Homo sapiens: one gene and its partner. The protein of the gene in region 2 interacts with the protein of the main gene of each other region in a biochemical or structural test. Each region holds a gene or a part of one and is shown on either strand. Other genes may lie near its edges.

Region 1 (3,652 bases), on a different chromosome or scaffold from region 2:
ATTATTTGCTTTTAGAATACATTCACTCACATCGACTGTTTCTTTGTAGTTACAATTTCTTATTACCCCTGAACCAGGCATTTCTAGATTTCTCTCAGTTGCACTATCCTTGGCCCAGATAATCTTCCCAGGAGGTGTGTGACACGTGAATAGGGAGAGACACCAAGAGAAAGATACCCAGAAGCCTTTGCCAGGCCACCAGTGTCTCCCAGAAGAGCTGGGAGACAATAGTCCTCTCACCTGAGGCAGAGCCGTTCCGTAAACAGGATCAGTTGTTTCAGGCTGGTTGATGTGAAAGAAATGTGAAAGAACATTTGCCCAATATTTGTAACATGTTACCATCCAGTAGTCTGATTCTGTGGGTTTTCAGGAGCATAAATTAGTAAATTAGTGAGGAGGTGTGATAATGAAGAGGGTGTGGTGGGTCACATCCTTGGGTGGTGCTTACAGGAGCTCCATGAATAGGTGCTAAGGAATTTGAATCCTGGCTTTCTTGTTTTGTGGACATGTTCTGCTTGTTAAGGGGTGTGTGTGTGTGTGTGTGTGTGTGTGTGTGTGTGTGTGTGTGTGGTTTTGAGCTACTTTGTTTAAAAGGCTGCTTTTAGTGTTGGCACTATGGTCCTTAAAACAAATAAGGTGTTTACAAGCAAAAGTTCTGATTGAAAGTGTTTCATTTTGTAAATATTTGGGAGATGGCATAAAGAGAAACTTGAGGTCTTGTGTGAAAACACTTTAAAGTTGCAGCTGTTGGACCAGAGGAAACATGCTTTTCCAACAAAGCTTGGTATCCTTGAGTGCCCTAGGTGTTTGGTTCAGGAAATAATCACAGAGCTTGTAACTGCTGTGGGGCCCTCCCTGGCTTCAAGCCGTGCTCTGGTATTTCCAGTGTTAAGTCTATCCTTATATTGCCGGAAACAAAGCAAGGTGTCCAACTTGGGTTAGCAAACTTGTTTTCTCTCTAGAGGGGACACCAGTCAAAATAGAAGTTCTATATTCTGTTGTGATTTTTTCCTCTTTGGATGAGGAATATGGTGACTTATTTTGGTATTACAATTTCTAACTTGGTAATAGAGGTAATATTCTAAGTGAATACCAATCTTAAGTACGCACAGCATCTGTTGTAGTGGTTTCAAGACCTCAAAGTTTAGGCCGGGCGCGGTGGCTCAAGCCTGTAATCCCAGCACTTTGGGAGGCCAAGTCGGGAGGATCATGAGGTCAGGACATCGAGACCATCCTGGCTAACACGGGGAAACCCCGTCTCTACTAAAAATACAAAAAATTAGCCGGGTGTGGTGGCGGGTGCCTGTAGTCCCAGTTACTCAGGAGGCTGAGGCAGGAGAATGTCCTGAACCAGGGAGGCGGAGCTTGCAGTGAACGGAGATTGCGCCACTGAACTCCAGCCTGGACTACAGAGCGAGACTCCGTCTCAAAACAACAACAACAACAACAACAACAAAACCCTCAAAGTTTAGAGGAAATTGATTGCACAGGTACTATTTAAGAAACTGGTACTGAGAGCATTTTCTCTATTTCTGTATGTGGCTTGGAGGTAATGTCTGGTTGACAGATCAGGCTAGGGTGGATGATACCCCTCTTGAAGATGCATTCACTTAGCAAGTGTACTGTCTTTTATGTAGATTATATTATTTAGAGTGGCTGAGGCTGCTGATAGAGACCAGCGTTGAAGTGTGGATCTGAAGTTCACCCCCTTTCTCTGAGCTGTCACCTTGTTTGTAGCCCCACTGAAACAGGGACAGACGAACATGAGATTCAAGTTGATTTTAGTGACCTATATTTCATCCAGCAGATTTTTTTTTTCAGAAATAAAAGGTTACCTTTTAATTTTTTAGTATCCTTTCCACTGTTCTAGGAGCAGGGGGAGAACAGAGCATTTCAGGGAGAGTTTGCATTCATAGTCCACAAGTTTGCATACATAGAACATGTGTCTAAAAATGAACTGAATGTTAAGTCCTAGAAGCACAGCAACAAGTGTGCAGAGCCTTCCCCATCACTCCCAATTAATCTGGGGTTACCAAATACACCCTCAGCTTTGGTGAGCTTGTTTTCCTCATTGATGTTTAAGCGTTCCTGGTTTTTACTCTGTCTGTGACTTTCTGCAGTAATGGCTGTCCACGTCTGGAATGTGCTTCCCTCTGAGTGTCTGGATTATCTTGTGCTTTCATATCTAGCTCAGGTGCCACAGCTTCCACGAAGCCTTCCCTGCCCTTCCTCCTTAAAGCACTTAGCTTGACCACACAACACTTACAGCTAATTTGATACCGATATTGTATGTGAGGTGCCTACCTCATGCCAAGCCCTTTCTAATACTTTCCATGGGCTACGTCATTGACTGCACATAATTATACAAGATAGATACTTTTATTGCCATGTTCTAGATGAGGAAACTGAGGCACAGAGAAGTTAAAGAACTTGCCTAGCTTAGGCCACACAGCCTGTAAGTGGCAGACCAGGTTAGGGACTCAAGCAGTCTAGTTCTTTATACATCCTGATGTTGCCTGGTTTCTGACTTTCCGGCACGTTATTCTTTTCTCTGCAACTCGAGTTGGGGTAATCACAGCTTCCTTTGAGTCTCTTAATTCTCAGACAGTGCTGGGTCAGTAAGTCCTGGATTAATTGAGAGTAAAATGACTTCTTCATGTCACAGGTTCTTACAGCCTGATTTTCTGGAACAGAAAATGTTGTGTGAGATTAAAAATGTTGTTTTTGAGTATTTAAATGATAAAACTTTGGAGCTCTCCTTTGCTGTATGAACGATAGACAAATTATTTGAAAAAGGAAATGCTCTTATATTACAACTCTAAATCTGTTTGGAGCCTGTCCAGCATTAGACCTTATTTGTTAAGTGAGGTAACTTTTCACTGGGTTGAATCCCTCATCTGATAAAAGATCTTCTCACCCTGAACAGGGCCACAGAAGCCTGTGTTGAGAGTTAAGAGGGCCCATAATTTCTCAGCCTCCCTCTTCCCTGTAGTCTTTTAACATACATTGTGAAAGCTCTTTTGAAAAGAAAATAATGAACACTTGAGCAGTAGTCAAACATGTAATCTAATATTGGATAGCCTTAGATATTAAAATAAACTTTTTCCCCCCACCTCAGAAGAGATACTTTTATTTATTTTTACAGTGGAGCAAATTTGGTGCCAAATAAACAATTTCTATTCTTTTAAACCATAGCCACAGTTGTGAATTAAATGGGGAAAACCAGGGAAGCAAGTTCAATTTCCAATGCAGTTGGTGCGATTTCGTGACTTACAATAGATCTTTTCCTTTTGGCTTAAAACTAGATATTGTGCCACTTAGACAATATTTAATGAAGACAATTGACTAAAACACAAGGAAATAATAGGAAAGCTATGCCTTAACGGCATATTGCCAGGAAGGGAAACATGAAAACAAAAGGCTTGTTAGCCATTAGGCTACACAATCATAAAATTTTTTGAACAGACATTGATTTCAGAAGGTTTTTCTTTTTTCTTAATCATTCATCTTGTTATACTTTTTTTTTTTTTTTTTTTTTTGAGACAATCTTGCTCTGTCGCCCAGGCTGGAGTGCAGTGGTGCGATCTCAGCTCACTGCAAGCTCCGCCTCCCAGGTTCACGCCATTCTCCTGCCTCAGCCTCCTGAGTAGCT
Region 2 (3,652 bases):
ACCTCAAGTGCCAGACATGTAGCCCTTCAACTAACTTATTTTATTTATTTATTTTTTGAGATGGAGTTTTGCTCTTGTTGCCCAGGCTGGAGTGCAATGGCGTGATCCCAGCTCACTGCAACCTCCACCTCCTGGATTCAAGTGATTCTCCTGCCTCAGCCTCCCCATTAGTTGGGGTTTACAGGCATGTCACCATGCCCAGCTAATTTTTTTTTTTTTTTTTTTTTTTTTGAGACACAGTCTCGCTCTGTCACCCAGGCTGGAGTGCAGTGGCGCGATCTCGGCTCACTGCAACCTCCGCCCTCCGAGTTCAAGCAGTTCTCCTTCCTCAGCCTCCTGAGTAGCTGAGACTACAGGTGCCCGCCACCACGCCCGGCTAGGTGTTTTTTTTTTTTGTATTTTTAGTAGAGACAGGGTTTTACCGTGTTAGCCAGGATGGTCCCGATCTCCTGACCTCAGGTGATCTGCCTGCCTCCGCCTCCCAAAGTGTTGGGATTATAGGTGTGAGCCACCGCGCCTGGCCTACTTTTTTTATTATTTTTTTTTTTGGAGACAAGAGTCTCGCTCTGTCGCCCAGGCTGGAGTGCAGTGGCGTGATCTCGGCTCACTGCAAACTCTGCCTCCCGGGTTCATGCGGTTCTCCTGCCTTAGCCTCCCAGGTAAACTGGGACTACAGGTGCATGCTGCCACGCCTGGCTAATTTTTTTTTTTTTTTGTATTTTAGTAGAGACGGGGTTTAACCATGTTGCCCAGGCTGGTCTCCATCTCCTGAGCTCAGGCAATCTGCCTGCCTTGGCCTCCCAAAGTGCTAGGATTACAGCCGTGAGCCACCGTGCCTGGCCTTCTGGCCTTTTTTTTTTTTTTTTTTTTTTTTTTTGAGACGGAGTCTTGCTCTGTTGTCTAAGCTGGAGTGTAGTGGCACAATCTCGGCTCACTGCAATCTCTGCCTACCAGGGTGCAAGCGATTCTCCTGCCTCAGCCTCCCAAGTAGCTGGGACTACAGGTGCGTGCCACCATGCCCGGCTAATTTTGTGTGTGTGTGTGTGTGTGTGTGTTTTACTAGAGACGGGGTTTTACTTTGTTGGCCAGGCTGGTCTTGAACTCCTGACCTTGTGATCCACCTGCCTTGGCTTCCCAAAGTACTGGGATTACGGGTGTGAGCCACTGCGCCTGGCTTTTTTTTGGAGAGATAAGGTCTTGTTTTGTCATCTAGGCTGGAGTGCAGTGGCACAGTCATAGCTCATGGTGGCCTCCAACTTTTGGTGTCAAGGTATCCTTACGCCTCGTCCTCCCTAGTAGCTGGGACTACAGGTGTATGTGCCACTGCGCCCAGCTAATATTTTTACATTTTGTAGAGATGGAGTCTTGCTGTCTTGCCCAGGTTGGGTCTCAGACTCCTGGGCTCAAACAGTCCTCCCACCTCAGACTCCCAAAGTGCTGCAAGTACGGGCATGAGCCACTGAGTCCAGCTATCTTCAACTTTCACTATTCAGGTTACAGTTTGTAGTACCTTTTTTCGGGGGTGGTGGGAGGGTAGTGGGAGTAGCACCCTAAGATTTCTTGGAATAAAACAGGGCTTACTACTTGGTTCCTGGTACTTAAGAACAGTGGTTCCTAGACTCCACTGTTCCCAAACTTGGAATCCAGTTCCCCAAATTGGAATCACCTGAGGTTTAATTACCTTCATGGAGGTTTAATTTGCATACAATAAAATGCACATACTTTAAATGATAGTTTGATAATTTTTTTGTTCTTATTTTTTTTAGACATAGGGCCTTGTTCTGTCACCCAGCTGAAGTGCAGTGTCGGAATCATGGCTTACTACATCCTCGACCTCCTAGGCCCAAGAATTCTCTGCTTTAGCCTCCCGAGTAGCTGGGACTGCAGGTGTGCACCACCACGCCTGGCTACATTTTTATTTTGTAATTTTTTTTTTTGTAGAGAGAGGGGTCTCACTATGTGCTCAGACTGGTCTTGAACTCCTGGCCTTAAGTGATTCTCTCGTCTCAACCTCACAAAGCCCTGGGATTATAGGCATGAGCCACCACAAACCGCCAGTTTGATAAATTTTGATGAATGTGTATACCCAAGTAATTGCCACTCAGTCGAGTTAAAGAGCATTTCCTCAAGGCTTTAAATTTTTATTTTTATTTTTGAGACGGAGTCTTATTCTGTCATCTAGGAGTGCAGTGCCGCAATCTTGGCTCACTGCAGCCTCTGCCTCCCGGGTTCAAGTGATTCCCCTGCCTCAGCCTCCTGAGTAGCTGGGACTACAGGTGCGTGCCACCACACCCAGCTAACTTTTTGTATTTTTAGTAGAGATGGGGTTTCACTCTGTTAGCCAGGATGGTCTCGATCTGATCTTGTGATCCGCCTGCCTCTGCTTCCCAAAGTGTTGGGATTACAGGCGTGAGCCACCGCGCTCGGCGGGTTTCTTTTTTTTTTTTTTTATGAGATGGAATCTCGCTCTGTTGCCCAGGCTGCAGTGCAGTGGCACGATCTCAACTCACTGCAACCTCCGCCTCTCGGGTTCAAGCGATTCTTCTGCTTCAGCCTCCCGAGTAGCTGGAACTACAGGCACCCGCCACCACGCCCGGCTAATTTTTTGTGTTTTTAGTGGATACGGGGTTTCGCCATGTTGGCCAGGCTGGTCTCAAAGGCCTGACCTTGTGATCCTCCTGCCTCGGTCTCCCAAAGTGCTGGAATTACAGGTGTGAGCCACTGCTCCTGGCCTAAAGTTTTTTAGACTAGTTTTTTTGTTCATTCGTTTTATTTGCTTGGCTTCCTAGAATATGACAAGTTTTGGTTTGTTTTTGAGACAGAGTCTTGATCTGTTTCCCAGGCTGGAGTGCAGTGGTGCTATCGTGGCTCACTGCAGCCTCTAACTCTTGTGCCCAAGTAATACTCCTGCCTCAGCCTCATGAGCATCTGGGACTACAGGCAAGCACCACCATACCTAGTTAATTAATTTAATTTTTATAGAGATGACGTTTTGCCATGTTGTCCAGGCTGGTCTCTAACTCCTGAGCTCTGGCCTCGCAAAGTGGTGGGATTATAGGTGTGAACCACTGCACCCGGCCTAGTTTTTTATTTTAAGAAATATATATACTTGGTAAAAGTAAACTCCTGCAATAAGGTTTACAATAAGCATATATAAATTCTTAGCCAGCTCACTGGGAGGTACCTAATGGTTCATTTTTCTTTGTCAGTTTTACTAGATACGCATTGTCTTAGAGGCAATGTAAGTTTGGAATTAGGCCAAACAAAGTCAAATCCTGATTCTGTGCATCCATTGAAGGTTAACCTTATAATATTTACATTTTGAGATAAATGATTTCATGCTCTTATTTAGGAAACTTGACGGTATGTTACCTCAGGGATTGTTCCTTGCCTGTCTTTCCCCAAAGAACTTGAGTTTGAAGTGATTTTCACTTGGCAGTAAATTGAAGGTTTTCTTCATTGCTTACCACCATGTGCCTTATTCCTGCTGCTCTTGATCTCCAAGTGCCCTTACTGCTACAGAAAGGAAAGCTCTTGAACTAAGAGCTTGGCAGCCACTTGATCAGGATGGCCAAATAATGGCAGTACAGGTTGAGCATCTGAAATGCTTCAAGATGGGCGCTGGCATGACATTCAAAGGAAATGCCTAGTG

The links. Proteins that work in one complex are often made in the same cells at the same time.
Region 1: the proteins of RHOA (region 2) and DAAM1 form a complex in vitro, tested with the Homo sapiens proteins (one study listed by IntAct).

Annotation. Positions count from the first base shown.
Region 1 is NC_000014.9:59,191,625-59,195,276, forward strand, and holds part of DAAM1 (disheveled-associated activator of morphogenesis 1), read left to right. Parts: intron 1-3,652. UniProt on the Homo sapiens protein: Binds to disheveled (Dvl) and Rho, and mediates Wnt-induced Dvl-Rho complex formation. May play a role as a scaffolding protein to recruit Rho-GDP and Rho-GEF, thereby enhancing Rho-GTP formation. Can direct nucleation and elongation of new actin filaments.
Region 2 is NC_000003.12:49,401,837-49,405,488, reverse strand, and holds part of RHOA (transforming protein RhoA isoform 1 precursor), read left to right. Parts: intron 1-3,652. UniProt on the Homo sapiens protein: Small GTPase which cycles between an active GTP-bound and an inactive GDP-bound state.